2 linked regions of the Homo sapiens genome follow. The protein of the gene in region 2 interacts with the protein of the main gene of each other region in a biochemical or structural test. Each region holds a gene or a part of one and is shown on either strand. Other genes may lie near its edges.

Evidence for each region.
Region 1: the proteins of PLP1 (region 2) and MBP form a complex in vitro, tested with the Homo sapiens proteins (one study listed by BioGRID).

Annotation. Positions count from the first base shown.
Region 1 is NC_000018.10:76,982,784-76,989,812, forward strand, and holds part of MBP (Golli-MBP), read right to left. Parts: intron 6,130-7,029; coding exon 6,094-6,129; intron 5,745-6,093; coding exon 5,712-5,744; coding exon of another isoform or gene 5,307-5,711; exon of another isoform or gene 4,920-5,306; intron 2,428-4,919; coding exon of another isoform or gene 2,421-2,427; intron 2,112-2,420; coding exon 1,992-2,111; intron 1,370-1,991; exon of another isoform or gene 944-1,369; intron 1-943. UniProt on the Homo sapiens protein: The classic group of MBP isoforms (isoform 4-isoform 14) are with PLP the most abundant protein components of the myelin membrane in the CNS. They have a role in both its formation and stabilization.
Region 2 is NC_000023.11:103,772,345-103,779,846, reverse strand, and holds the start of PLP1 (myelin proteolipid protein), read right to left. Parts: upstream 3,008-7,502; 5' UTR 2,852-3,007; coding exon 2,848-2,851; intron 1-2,847.

The DNA.
Region 1 (7,029 bases), on a different chromosome or scaffold from region 2:
CAGCCATATGGCCATAGTAGGCCAGTTATGAACTTTTTATGCAGTAAAATTTAATTACAACCATATGATTTGAAATTTGCTTTGATACATAGAAGCTTCCCTTGAACTCTACAGAAATTAAATAATTTTTAAAAGCTTCTTACAAAAAAGTTCAGGGAAAATACTGAACTTATTTCAGGAAACACATGTGTATAGTACACTGGTTATATTTGCACACAGTAAATGTGCAGATCTAAATGCAGCTTTCTGTTCCTCAGGGTGGTCTTGGTAAGCTCTGGCCTTGCAAGCATCTTTGAGTGACTGGTTGTAAGCCTTGCATATATTGCAAGGACAATATTTGCTAAATGGGGCCCCTCACTCATCTGGGCCCTCCCATCAACTCTGAGCCAGCACTCAGCTCTCCCGGTGTGTCTAACAGTCCTTAAGCTGGTAGTGGAGTAATTAGTTTTCCAGATGGGATGAATCCGTGTTTCCCAGGTGAGCACGGTGTCTGCAAAATCATCACAACTAGCAACACCTAGTTCGCCCTTGGACATTCTGACTCAGTGAGGCTGTGGCGGAGCGCAGATAGGGGTCTGGGCGTGCATCCCAGGCGATTCAGAGGCAGGTGACGTGCTGGCCAGGTGGGGCGGGGCCGTCCTGACTGCAGTGCTGGGTTCAGACACTGCTCCCCGGGGAGCCTCATCTCCGCCCTCTTGTGGCCACATCCCAGAACTGCGGCAATGTACAGCATGATGGCCCTGAGACTTGAATATTTGGAGAATTTTTTTCTTAACTCAGAATTTACGTTGAGGAGTGGATCCTGCCTACCACTTCATCTGACATAAAGCTGCTTACTTAGCAGCTCAGTTACTCCCTGCTCACTTCACATATTAAAAGCTTCTCCTAAGACCGGCTATCCTTAAGAGCAGGGGCTGTGCCCTGAATTGCCTGTTGTCCACAGAACCTCCCAGAACCTCCCAGAATCGAGGCTCACGGCAGAGGTTCTGCACTCACCAAGGACGCGGGGGGACCATGTCTGTGCTCATGTGGATCCCCGCTGCTGGGCAGAGCACACCACACATCCAGACTCAACAAAATACATGGAGTCAAAGGTCAGGTGACTGAATCAATGAGTATGTTACACACCAAGAAAGACCCCTCCTCTCTGCACCCCGGGGAGCAGCCCCAGAAGCCTGGTCTCCTCCAGGATGAAAATGCAAACGCAGGTGCCTGGGGGCTCCCAGAGCCTTTGGCTTCACGGTTCCCTCCCGGCCCTGCCTGGAGCTTCATGTGCCTCCCCTTTTGCTTAATGAGAGCCGCTGTCTAAGAGTTAAGGGTTTTCTGGGTGACGTTTAACAATAATAAAGGTGACTGCTTATCTAAGGAATCCGAGCCGCGCACCTGCCAGCCGCGTTTTGTGTTTGTCACTACCTTTTACTTTCACAGCGATTTTGTGAGCTGAGTGGGCGGGTTACCTCCATTTTACAGATGAGAAAACCAAGTCTCAGAGACAGAGCTTATAAACAGCGGGCCTGGCATTCGTCCTGGGTCTGGTTCCAGGTCCTCATGAGCCGACGGGACACTCCCCACTCCCTGGAGGTCTCCTGGGCATTCCCTCCCGTGGCTCCAGGGATCTCCCCCCGACACCCACGTCTGCTTGACTCCTGCTTTAGCTCCCTGAGGGCCCCAACCCCTGGGCATGAGCAAGTTGGACTCCAGCTGGGCCCTGCCCCAGAGTCAAGGTCAGTCGCCTGCTCCAGGGCCCCTGAACCAGCCCAGGCGCAGCCCTTCCTCAAGCACCTCCGGCTTCACATGCATCTCGGAGGAAATCCACGCGTAAATGCGGGTGGGCAATGCCACCTGAGCCCCTGCACGCCTGCTGGGACAGAGCACGTCCAGGGTACAGTGCGGCTGAGCCAGAGGCGGCAGCCACCCTTGTACTCAGCTTAGTTGGGGATTCTGGGAGCCCTTAGTCCCCGCTCAGTGGAGCTGAGCAGAGGGTACCTTACCAGCTTAAAAATTTTGGAAAGCGTGCCCTGGGCATCGACTCCCTTGAATCCCTTGTGAGCCGATTTATAGTCGGACGCTCTGCCTCCGTAGCCAAATCCTGGTCTCTGGCCTTCGGCCCCCTGCAAGAGAAGACCACGGAGCTCAACCTCCACCCGCGGTGCTGGGCACGCTGCTTGAGCCACTGGGAGCTGCCACCAGGGCCCCGGGGAAGGGCCCAGGCCCCGGACTGGACTGGTGAGTGGTTCAGGAGCCACGGGCCAGCACCACGCTGAGGGGGTGGGGGCGGGAGAGGCTGCTCCCCCAGGTCTACCAGGGTGTTGGCCGCAGAGAGAGGAGGGCTCTGGTTTGGGCGGAGGCTCTCTCATGAGATATGCGGCCCAACCACACATATTTTAAGGATCTAAGTCGTTTAGGGAACAGTTGCTTACCTTCACGCTGTGGGGTGTTCAAGAGAAGATTAGCAAACATCAAGCAAATCAAGGTAAGGAGGCTCCTGCCTACACGGGTTTGGAGGACTCGGACCCTGGGGGGCTGTGCGCTGTGTAGGTGCCGGTCCCCGGAGGCCCCGGCCTGCGCCTTTGCTGGGGGCTCCTTTTGCTGATTGATTTGCACAGATTGGATTCTGGTCACATGTGCCCTGTGGTTCTAGGATCTGTCTGGGAGATCAAGAGTCCTCGGCCTTAGTAAAATGTCGAGCCTCGTATCTTTTATAAGGTTTTGAGACAAAATCCTGAGCTCTCTCCCAGGGTGAGCAGGAATCAGTCTCCCTTGGCCATAGCTCGGACTGGGAGCAACAGGAGGCCGGGGCTGCTGAGCCGGACAGAGGGAGGAGGCAGGCCTGGCTGGCACGGGGGGCGGCCGCATCCTGGCAGCAGCGGGACAGCGTCTCAGCTCCCCCACCTCCCAGTCCCCTAGCACCTTTCTAGCTCATCCGGCTGTGTGGCCTTGGGCAAGGGCAGGAACCTCTCTGAGCTTCAGTTTCCTCATCTACGCAATGGGGCTGTGCGAGAACACAAGCCGTTCATGGAGATGCCACTCCTCAGGTGGAGGCTGCCAGCTCTGGGCTTTGGTGCCAGCTGTCATTTATGGAAGAGCAGGCCGCCCTGCCCTGGCCTCATCAGCCCCAGCAGCCCCTCTGGCTTCCTCATGGGCCGTGTGACCGCAGGGGCTTCCTGACACACATGGGTGCGAGTGTCCCAGGACCAGCCTCTACTTGCTACTGTGCTGTCTTCTCGAGTGGGAACTCCACTGCAAACATGGGGAGGAAGGGAAGGAGCTCGCTGTGGGAGTCTGGGCGCGGTGGACGTTAACAATGGGGGGCGAAGTGTCCTCCCACGGTGGGTGCACTGTCTGTGGGAAGGCTGACCACGCTGTTAGCTTTTCAGGGATCTTGGTTGGCCTCCTGAGTCTCTACTCAATGGACAGGGTCCAGACTGCACTTTACATTTTGCCAACAAGAAATGGGAGACTGTCCTTGAGCCCTCTCCTGAAGACTTGAGGGAACCAAACCAGACTGTCCCTCCTCTATCAGCCTGCAGCCTTTCTTCCATTTCATTAAAGTGTTTTAGGACAGGGAGGACCTTGACCAACCTAGCCCATCTCTTATTTAGAGGTGAGGAAGATGACACCAGAGGCCTCAAGGCTTCCAGAGCACCTGGCTGCACCCTCAGCCTCTGCTGGGGGCTTCCCACCATACAAGCTACTTGCACAGTTTTCTTTTCATTCAGCCTGTGCTTGGGAGTGAGCATGGCCACTCAGAACCAGGCAGCTGCTTTCGTGTGAACAGTTGATTCGGGGGCTATCCAGTGAGGTGAGGGACGGGATGTGTGGCAAGAAGGTCTAAGCACTGCACACGAGGGGACAGCCAGCCTCGCTCTTGCGTCCTAGAGGTTTCCAGGTTCATGCTCACTCCCTGATGGCAGAGGGCAGGTTGCCAGCCTGGCTCTACATGGCAGAAAGCCACTTCCCTGCAAGCGTTAAGTCCTTCTGTCTTACTCTATTGCTTTTCTCCAAAAATAAAGCATTTTTGAGAGCTAAATCCGGGGATTGACTTTCAGATTAACAATCTGCGCGGCCTTTCCTCCTTTCCAATCCTTAGTCATGTTTATCTTTGGGGAACCTAGAATGTACCAGGAAACACACAACACAGCTTAGAAAGAGAAAGTGGGGGCTCTCTGGAACTCCAGACAAGGAGAGAGTCCTGCGGCTCTGGGAAACAGACAAGCAGACAAAATGCAGAGAAGGATTTTGCTTTGGAAAAAAGAGAAATTCAACAGACATTAGTAGGACCCAAAAGGGAGAGATGCAGGGAGGAATGCAAGGGTCTTTCTTGTTAGCTGCTGGGGCAGAACGGCCTGTGTGCAACCCCCCATCGCTCCACATTCAGGGAGGATCCGGCACGACGGCCCCAAAGTCCACTCCTAGAAAATTAAGAGCAGATAAAGCAGTAGCTAAAATAAGATTTCTGGGTCAAAAATGAATTTCATTCTTCTATCATCTTTGTCTCCTGCTGGCATAGAAAATAAAAAATTAATTGTGAGTACTAGTCCATGTACATTTGCTACATGATTGTCATCGTTTTGCAAATTCATTAGGTCAGAAAAAGCAAGTCAAATATGCATTAATGGAAAACGTTTCGGTAAATATCTTAGTTCATAATTCAGTGTAATCATGTGTGGGACTGATCTGGGATCCTCATGGTCTCTCAAGTACCCTGCCCCTTCCTCCCTCTCTTCCTTCCTCTTCCCCACCTTCTGTTTTCTTTCCCTGTTCTTTCTTCCTGTTCTTTCTCCTTGTTGTTTTTCTTTTAAAATGTATTCATTCATTTATATGATGCTTATTAATTGAGCAGAAAGTGTAGGTAGGCTCTGTTCTAGCGTATGAGAGCATTGCAGTTTCGGAGACAGACACAACCTATCTACAATACGTTGGTGGTTATTCCTCCATTTTATTCTAAAATTATAACTTTTATACAGTAAGAATCATATCTGGTATTTGCTAGTAACTAAAGTCTGTAAGTTTGGTTAGAATATAATGATTGGCATTTTAATTTGGCTCAGACACCAAATTTTTTCACTAGAAAGTTCAAATTGGCCATTTTAAACCTTCCTTGAAAGTTTGCTTTCAGTATTAACCAGCCTAAAATTCCTAAGGAAGATTTTCTGGATGGCTTGATATCTATGTTTTAATTATTATTTAAACACATACAAAACAAAAATCTTTGGATTAATGAGGTTATTATAAATCGAGCAACTCTATTTAGCCTCTTTTTCTGTTCATCAGCAGAATCATTTTCCCAGTGTCAGCATCTGGGGTCACTGAGACGGGCCAGCCAGTCCCACTTCCACATGCGGGTTCCTGGGGCTTCTCGCACTGGTTGTGTTGGAGGAAGTTAAACATTTTCTCGGACGTGGTGTTGCTCCCTCCCTGGGAGGGAGACCAGTCACGTCGCCTGGGAACCCTCTGGGAGAAGAGGATCTGGCCTTGCAGGGCTGGGTCCCCGGCACAGAAGCAAGAGACCAGACCTTCCGGAAGGGAAGACCACGTTTCATTTCCCCAGTGGAAGACAAGGCGGCCCGATCCCAGCTGTGGGCAGAGAGGTCTCGAGAGGAGAGAAAAGGAGGCCAGGAAGCAACCGAAACAGAGCAGAACACAAAAGTTGCGGGGCTGTGAGGACTGGGACGGAAGAGGAAGCCGATGGAAGTGCGTTCGTCACCTACCCAGCTAAATCTGCTCAGGGACAGTCCTCTCCCCTGCATGAGGAAGACAGAGAAATAATGACATGGTGGTCAGTGAAGGGAAAGTCCTTTCAATCAACAGGAAACACAGTCAAAGCACAGTGGAGCTGAGGTGGTAAAAACAGGTTCCACCCGGAGCTCCGAGGGGGGCCGCAGGCTCAGGGCCACAGCGGCTGTGCAGGTGCGGGAGGGACAGGAGGGGTGCATGGATCTGCCGACCTGTTCTACTTGGGAGCTGCCTGGCAACACGTTTTGGGATGGATTCTGGTAGCTCGGAGCCTAACTCTCTCTTTGGTACATTATGGGATTTTAGAGAAGGTCTATCAGAAAAGTGATGATCAATCAAAACATTCCAAGGTCTTACCTTTCCCTGCGACGGGGGTGGTGTGCGAGGCGTCACCTGGAAAGACACAGAGAACCGTGGGCTGCACTGGGAGCCCTGTGCCGCCGTCCATTTCCTAACGGGCTCCTGCCTGCTGAGGGTGGCTAGCATCCATCAGCTGCCAGAAGCACCCGGGTGCCCAGCCTCCCCACTTCTGTCCTAGTTGGTGAAGAAGTATAGACCTGAGATTGAAAATATTCTAGATGATGCAGATCTCCCAGAGCACTCAGGAAGTGTTTCAGAGGATGGAAAACACCTCCCAGAGGCTCCGTAGCTGGGGAATGGGCCCATCTTGGGACACTGAGGGAGGCGGCGGACTTTGCTTCACCGTGAGCCCTTTCCGGGGCTAGGAGTAGCGGGCCCTCTGACATTCAGAGCTTCCAAGGGGATGTCCCCAGGTCTGCAGCTCCTAAGTGCACTTATCGAATACGAGCATAAAATGTCTGCTGCACTGAGATCTTGGAATTAGAAGCCTGTGGTTTTGTTCTTGTTTTTAATCGTCTTCGTTTTGCATGGCACTTTTCGGTTTACAGAAAAACTGTGCAGAAATTAGTTTCCACATACCCCGAACAGTTTCCCTTATTAGCAACACTGCCTTAGGGCTCTCTCGGTGCTGTGCACGCTGTGGGTTTGGACAAGTGCGTGGTCTTCAGTCACCATGGCAGCCTCGACAGAGCGGTTTCGCTGCCCGAAAAATGCCCTAAAAATGCCCTGTGCTCTCTCTGCTGCCCCCTCCGCTCCCAGCCCATGGCAAGCACTCTCCATAGGTTGCAAAGCCTGTGTTTTTAGGCTAAGCGTTACATGGGAGCCTAATCTCAAGAGAAGTGAGCTCTCTGGAGAACGCACGGAGCGCACGGTGCAATCCGTGGCAGATACAGTCGGGAAGCGCTTGCCTGGAACTCGCGATCAGGTGCGAGG
Region 2 (7,502 bases):
TCAGGACGATAGACAAAAGCAATGGGGGAAAGTGATGTTACTGGCTGGAGTTCTACCTTAATGGGTTTGGAGACTATATTTCCCCTCCCACCCACCTCCCAGGGTTGAGGTTGTTATTACTCAGATCGCTCTGAGAGAGCAGTTCCAGTTGTCAGCCTGTTAAGTAAACTTCTGGCTTTCCTAGCTCAGAGCCAAGCCCAAGGCCCCCTAAAGCAGGGTAGACCTTTCAAACTGCCTGGCTTTCCAAGAACTCCTCTGGCTCTGCACGGCCAAAGGGAGAAGTGAGGTAGAGAAGGCTGCACTTGATTATTTTAGTCAGTGTCTCCAGGAAGACTAGGTGAACATGCTGGCTGGGATCTGGTTTATTTTTGGCTCCTGGTATTCTTGGGGCATTCTTGCCATTTTGATGGGACTCAGTTAGTCTTCGGGCATTTTATAAAACTGGACCCCCGCTCTGCCGCCACACTTTTTGCCTGGGCTACACCCACTTACTGCAAGCCAGCCAAAACTACACTGCTTGGCAAACAGCCACTTTTGGATGGAGGCATCACAGTCTGGTTACCAGGGTAACAGCCACTGTTCTCAGACGACAACAGGCTTGCAGACAATGTTTTGCTGTTCAATAATGGCATTGTGTTTCAGAGCAGAGAATAATCAGCTACTGCTCTTTTGCTCCTTTCTGGTTCCATCATTATCCCAAAGACTCACTTGGAACATTCCCCTTCCAAATCAAGGCAAAAATTAATGAGCTATCATTTTCCCCATAAATCTTTTGTGCAGACACTACTGAATCAGTGTTCCTCCTTGCTTCCAATCCTAAGGGATTCTATATGGTTGAAGTAGTAAGTTCCCTGTTCCTGGAGGTGATTAAGCAGAGGCTGTACGAACATTTAATTGGTTGTTGTAAAAATGAATCCCGCATTGAAGGTTGGCTCAGACAACTTCTAAAGTTCCTTCCAATCCCGGATTCCATGATACAATGTGTTTACTGCAATTGTTGAACAGCAGTGCACTCCACATCAGAAGTAGTGGCAGTCCAGTACCTTGTTAGAGATGATCTATAATTCAAAGTACTTTAGATACTCTGTTATTGAATAAATGAAAACTCAGTGGCTGCTCCATCATATGTACCTGGCCCAAGTATCGTCCACCCTTAGGACCTGGGACCCAATGTGCATCCTCAATCGTGCCCTTATCTGTGGCACTCTTCCTCTGGAGGAAACCACCCAGCCTCCATAACAGGCAATTGTCCCTGTGGTCACTTTATTTGTTCCTGCCTTTCCTCAGGGATTTCATCCCCTGAGGAAGTAATATTCAACATCCTTCTTTACTCCCTCTCTGTTTTTAATGCACAACCTATCCAGTCAGCTCGGCTGACATTAGATAGGATTCCTGATGTTACCCAGGGCAGGAATTGAGTTCCTCCAACATTCACCTCTCATCTGGTCACACATAATTGGTCAAATGATTCTGACCCAAGCACGCAAAGAAAACCCAACCACCCTGGAAAGAGGAAGAGTTCGCCTGTATACACATTATTGTCTAATAGTAGGTATTATCATGATTTACAGTTGTTATAGATCTTGCCCATTTTCAAAGGACTTTGACATTATTGTTACTTGATTCTCACAACCCTGAAAGTAGACAAAGTAGTTATTGCTGTCCCCATTTTCCAGATGAGGAAGTGGTGATTCAGTGACCTGTCCAAGGTCACATAGTTCATAAGTAGCAGATCTGGGATTTGAATCTGATTTTTCCGACTCCCTGTCCAGTGCTCTCCCTCCTGTTTTACCTGAACACATGCTTCAAAGTGTTCTCTCTGTGTTTCATGATGAAACAACCTAAAGGCTGAACCAGCTCAGTATAATTGCAAATTGATCTCTGTGGATGTTGTCTACTGGATGCTACATTTGATAGGGAATACATGGGGCAACTGAGTCTCATTTCATTTAGGATGTGTTTAAGCTGCTATCTTTGTTTTGCCAAATGTTAGCAATGTCTACAGGACTCTGTGGAGTCCAATAGGGACAAAGACCCTTGTGCTCTGCACACATTACTCTGAGTAGAAACTACCACCAGAACTTCATAGCTTCTGTCTTTGTTCACGGAACCTAGAAAAGCCCTCAATACTCAGCCAACTTAGCAAGAGCCCTAATGTCCCAGCATCCTCCTTGTCACAGCAAAGAGCCTTCAGGAAAGCTGTGTCTGTGATATTTGCTAGAAATGATCAACCCTATATGTGCACACACATGCACATATGCACATACACACACACACTCCTACCCATATCTGTTTCCCATGGTCAAGCCATTGAGGACTTTACTTTCATTTCCTGAACCTGAGAATGGCCTCCTCAGCCATAGCCAAGCCTGAGTCCAGCTTGCCCGATCCCCAGCTTCCTATTAATGCCAAACATGGTTCAAAGTTTGCATCAAGCAAGCAGTTATTTTGTACATCTGAGGGCTAGACAGTGCTCAGTGGCCTCCAGCAGAACCAGGAGGGCAAGCTGACCCAACCGTTGCCAGGGCCTTGGAACCAAGGGAAAAGAGAAGATAGAGGGAAGTGAGGGGGTAGGAGGACACATGACCACATCCATCCAGCTGGGCACTCTCTCCAGAGATCTGTGGGACTCTCCACGTGCTGCTGGAATTCTTTGGTAATAAAGCATCATGCTTAGTACAGCGGAGAAGGAGTTAATCTAACTGAATGTTAAGGAATTTAAAAAGAAAACAAGTGCCAAAACACGACTCATTTAAACCATGGAACCCCCGAACCCCAAAGTTGGAAATTCTCTTGTGAATTCCTGTGTCCTCTTGAATCTTCAATGCTAAAGTTTTTGAAACTTACCCATGTCTTTGGGACTCTGACTCCAATTGTAGCCGGCTGGCTAGTCTGCTTTGTGGCTGACTTTGTTCAGCTGGAAGGATCCTGGTCTCTCCAGCCTCCTTCTTCGGTCTTTTACTTTTTCTCTCTGAGTATCTTTGTCCTCTTCTCCTGCAATGAAAAGGGCTTTCTGATTGACAGCCAACCCCCTTAAAGGGACAGGCCTGCTTTCCTCCTCCTCTCCTCCTCCCTTCTCCTCCCCTTTTCCCCACCTACTCAGGGATACTCCCTTCTCTAAGGGCTCCATCTTCTCTTTCTGCCTTTCACTGCCAATTGTTTCATTTTCTTTGTTTTTCCTTTTTTCCCTAAGGCTTGCCTGGAATTTCGCTTTGCTGCAGAGACATCTGGAAATGTGGATTGAGGGTGGAAATAAAATGAAGATGTCCTGGAAACTTCCAACTGATCCTTGGGTCTAATTGGTGTGGGATATGCAGCACAAGCGTGAGAAGCCATGAAGTGAGAGCCCCAACAGGGGCTCAGAGTCAAAAACCTAGATATTAGCTCCCAAAGTCCTTCCGAATCTGCTCCAGCTCCCCACATCACTCCTAGCTGCCCTTGGCCCTCTCCACCTTTCCCCTCCCGATTCCTTGGAAAATAAGCGTTCCTCCCCCACCCCCACCCCCAGCTCTACGAACACAATAGAGAAGAAAAAATTGTCTTTTAAGATAATTTCCTCCAAATCCTTCTCAGTTTCAACTGCATGAAGACAAAATGCAGGCTGTCAATTCGATGAACAGATTGTGATTAGGCTGGGGGAGGCTAGAATTGTAATAATTTTATAGCTACAATAATAAAGACCCAGAAGTGGGCAAGACCTATGCAAGTTCACAGACTAGGTTAAAGAAAAGGCCAGCGTTGAAGATGTGGGTGATTTCCAAGAAGGATAATCGACTTCGAGACAAGTCAAGAACACGATCTGGGAATCAGGTAGTCAGTATTCTATCCTGAGAGTGTAATATCTTCATCAGAGAGCTTAAGCCAGGCAGACAAGAGGCAGGGAGTGGGTTAGAGTGAAGCAGCAGGTGGCAGTGAGGGTGGAGAGAAGAAACGAAATATAGTCCTTGCCACAGAGAAAGAAGCGGTAAGACAAAAATGGCTAAGCAGCAAAAACAGGGAAATACTATATAAAACCTGCCTTAGCAATAAGCTATTTCTAAAGACTGTGAAGGTATTTAAATGCCCACTGCTAGATGGGATCAGCCTGGGAAGGTTTTCTAGAACAGGTGAATCTTAAACAGTGTCTGTCTGGGCTCCTTGTCAGTCCTGTCTCCCTTCACAGCTCCCTTGACCTAGAGGCCGGTGTCCTCCCATGGATGGCCTTTAAAACAACTGGCTGGCATATAATAAGAGGGGCACCTGTTGGAAGACTCCGGAGAAGGAAGGTATGGTCTCCTGGAACTTTTCCTGTGATTTTGCCTTGGGAGAGGAGAGAAGAGGAGGGAGATACTGAGCAGAGACTAGTACCTTCCTGGGGTGGGAGAAAGGCAAGATTGTGTCTTACAGTTTTCTCTTTGGGCTGTGACTTTGGACATGTTACTGGCTTGGGCTCTGCTGTTAGGAAATGGACGAGTCTTTGGCAGATGCCCCTGTGGGCCCACTGGGGCCAAATCCTGCACCGTTTGAGGCTTGCTTAGAGTACTAGAACTCTAGATCCTTTGCTCTTGTATCAGCCCCAAGAAAAAAGGATCTCTGGAAATGCTGCCCCTTGCAAAACGGTATAATAGTAGCTTTCCAGAGCAGACGAGACTAAGGCCATGTGACTGATGGAAAAGGGTCCTAGAGCCCCTCGCCCTCCCCAGCCCTGCTCGCCAGCCACAGACTATGCCTGCTTTGGAAGCTCAACTGTAGGATTGAGCCAGCAATAAACTTCTGGATGGTCACTGTCGGAATGGCCCTGGAGAAGGGGGAGGACCAAGAGCAAGAAATCGCCAAATGTGTCTCCTCAGCTCATCAGATGGCAGGAGTGAGCCCAAACTTTGGGAGTTCAGATTTAGAGGATGAGGCAAATGATCCTTCACAGCTCGAATAGATGAGACAGCTCTCCACACAGGGGACATCACTCAGACTGAGCCCTCTCACAAAGCTTCCCCTGAGTTCTCAGCAGCAGCTCTGGGGACAGCAACTCTACTGGAAAGAAAATATGTGTTCCCAATAAACCCACAGATACCAATTTATCAACCACATTCCCTTAACACACATTTCTCTTCTCCTTTCTTCCATCTCCATTGCCTTAATATTCATTCTATCCTCTCCCCAAGTCTCAATCTCTTTGTCTCTGTTACCTGTCTCTGTCTCTGTTTCTCTCTATGTGTCTGTCTCTGTTTCCTTTTTCTCTCTCCACATTCCCTGTCTTCGCCTTGTTCTTATGCTTGTTCTTATGCCCAGGGCCAGAAAAGGGACCCAGCCAGGTGACCGTGTCTCACTCATCCCAGTGCCTTAAGGTTCCCAACTCCCTAGAATCTAGTGTGTTCTCATTGCTCTGTACATCCCGACACTCTGCCTCAGTACCTCGTCAGCAGACCTTTCCTGAGGGCTCCCTACAGACCTCATAGGGTATCTTCCCAGGTCCTCCAGAGCCCATTTTTATCTACATACCCCCACCTATTTCTGTGATTCTGCTTCCATTGGTTCTGCTGGGTGCCCTTGGCAAAATATTCTTGAGTCCAGCTAGGCTCCTGCACTGCCAAGGGATTCCTCAAGAGGCACTGCCAGCCTTCTTGGTGCAGCCTGCTGCCTGTACTGGGTGCCTGTGGGAACAATGCAGGATTGTATAAAACTCGTAAACAGTTTGCTTCATGCAATTCTGATGGTACCTCAGAGAATCTGGGCCCCCTTGATCATGGCTTGGTTTGACTGTGCAGCTTTCTTGCAAATAACTCGAAAACACTTGAATATTACCTCCACTCTCTGCTCTATGATCCCATAGTATCAGATTATTGAAGGCCACAGATCAAGTGGGTTCTCCTTGCTTCATTGTGTAGACTGAACTCTAAAACTCAGAGAAGTCCAGTGAATTTCTCCCAGGAAAAACTAGATAAGGGATCAAGTGCCCAATCTAGTGGCCAACTTCTCCCTGAGCACAGAGAAGAACATAAAGGGGAAGAGAGAAGCGCGTACCAGTGAAAGCCTGGGTCATCTGCTATTATTTGGGCTTCTAGAGCTGAGGCTTTGCTTCTCATTCCCAGGATAATGTCTTCCCAGACCAAATTTTGGAAGGCAGCTTTCCTAGCCCTGGCATAGAAGACTGGCTGGCTGGCAGGCAGGCAGTATATTATGTCCTATGTACTGTGGCTAGAACTTTCCACACCCAACTTCATGCCGATTGGCTAGACTATGCCTTTCTGGCCAAGAGAACCGAGGGCTGAGGGCCAGAGATGTCACATACTTTGAGCTGGCAGACAGGGGTAGAGAGTGGAGGGTGATCTTCTGCCTTTCCTGAAGGTTCAAGGAACAATGGGAGGATGGATAGGGGCAGGCCATGGGGTGTATTTGTGAGGGGGAGATGCCCGTGGCTTGGGATGGAGTAAAGAGTAGCCTGGAAGCCAAAATAATCACATGAAAAATCTCAGCTAAAGAATGCCTGAGGAGCACCACATAGCTACTAGCAATGTGAAGAAACAAGCTGTCCACAGAACCCACCTCCACCAACATAAAAACTTGGCCAGCTTTTGCAGGGTTGCCCCTGCAGGGAGGATGCTTGTTTGATGTGATTTCTGAGCAAAGTAGAAATAAAACTAGTATTATTTCTGGGGAACCAATGTTATTTGTTCAATTTGACTGATGGGATACTGAGACAATTTTCCCAATGGCACCTAGCAAGCAAAGACCAGAGCCATCTCTAGAGAATGCCTGTCTCCAGACTCTTATTGCTTGGAAGTTGCTTGGGAGGTTGTTCTGCTGTGAAAAAATGTGTGAATAGAGAGCCTTTGCCCTGAGCAACAACAGCCGGGGGCTGGGGGAGGATGGACAGGCTTCGGGCTGCTGTAGCCCAAGTTTTCAACCTTCTACACTTCTCAGGTTAAGTAGGAGGCCGCTATTTGAAACCCAGGGCAGAGGCAAACTTCCGGCAGTTTGTAGGATCAGTGGGGTTCCAAATTAGTCAGTAACTAGTCAACATGGTGAAACCCTGTCTCTACTAAAACTATAAAAATTAGCCAGGCATGGTGGTGCATGCCTGTAATTCCAGCTGCTCGGGAGGTTGAGGCACAAGAAGTGCTTGAACCTGGAAGGCAGAGGTTACAGTGAGGCGAGATGGTGCCACTGCGCTCCGACAGATCTCAAAAAAAAAAAAAAAAAAAGATTACACAAGATACTGAACATAAAATTCTTACCATAGTGCCTATGCTCAAGTATAATAACAATAATAATAATAATCACCAGATGGGGTGACAGAGTATCTCTGCAAATGTTTGATAAGCATTTAAAAAATAGAGGCTGAACTTTAGTGATCTCTAGAACCAACACCTTTCAGATCCAGGATTCCTATACTTCCCCTGAACCTGCCTATCTTTAAAATGGAGCCAAGGATATGTGCTTTGAAGAAATGTTGAGACTCTTTGAGACACACCTAGCAGTTTCTTTGTGTATTTGTTGTCTTCTAACATCTCCACCAGCACCTC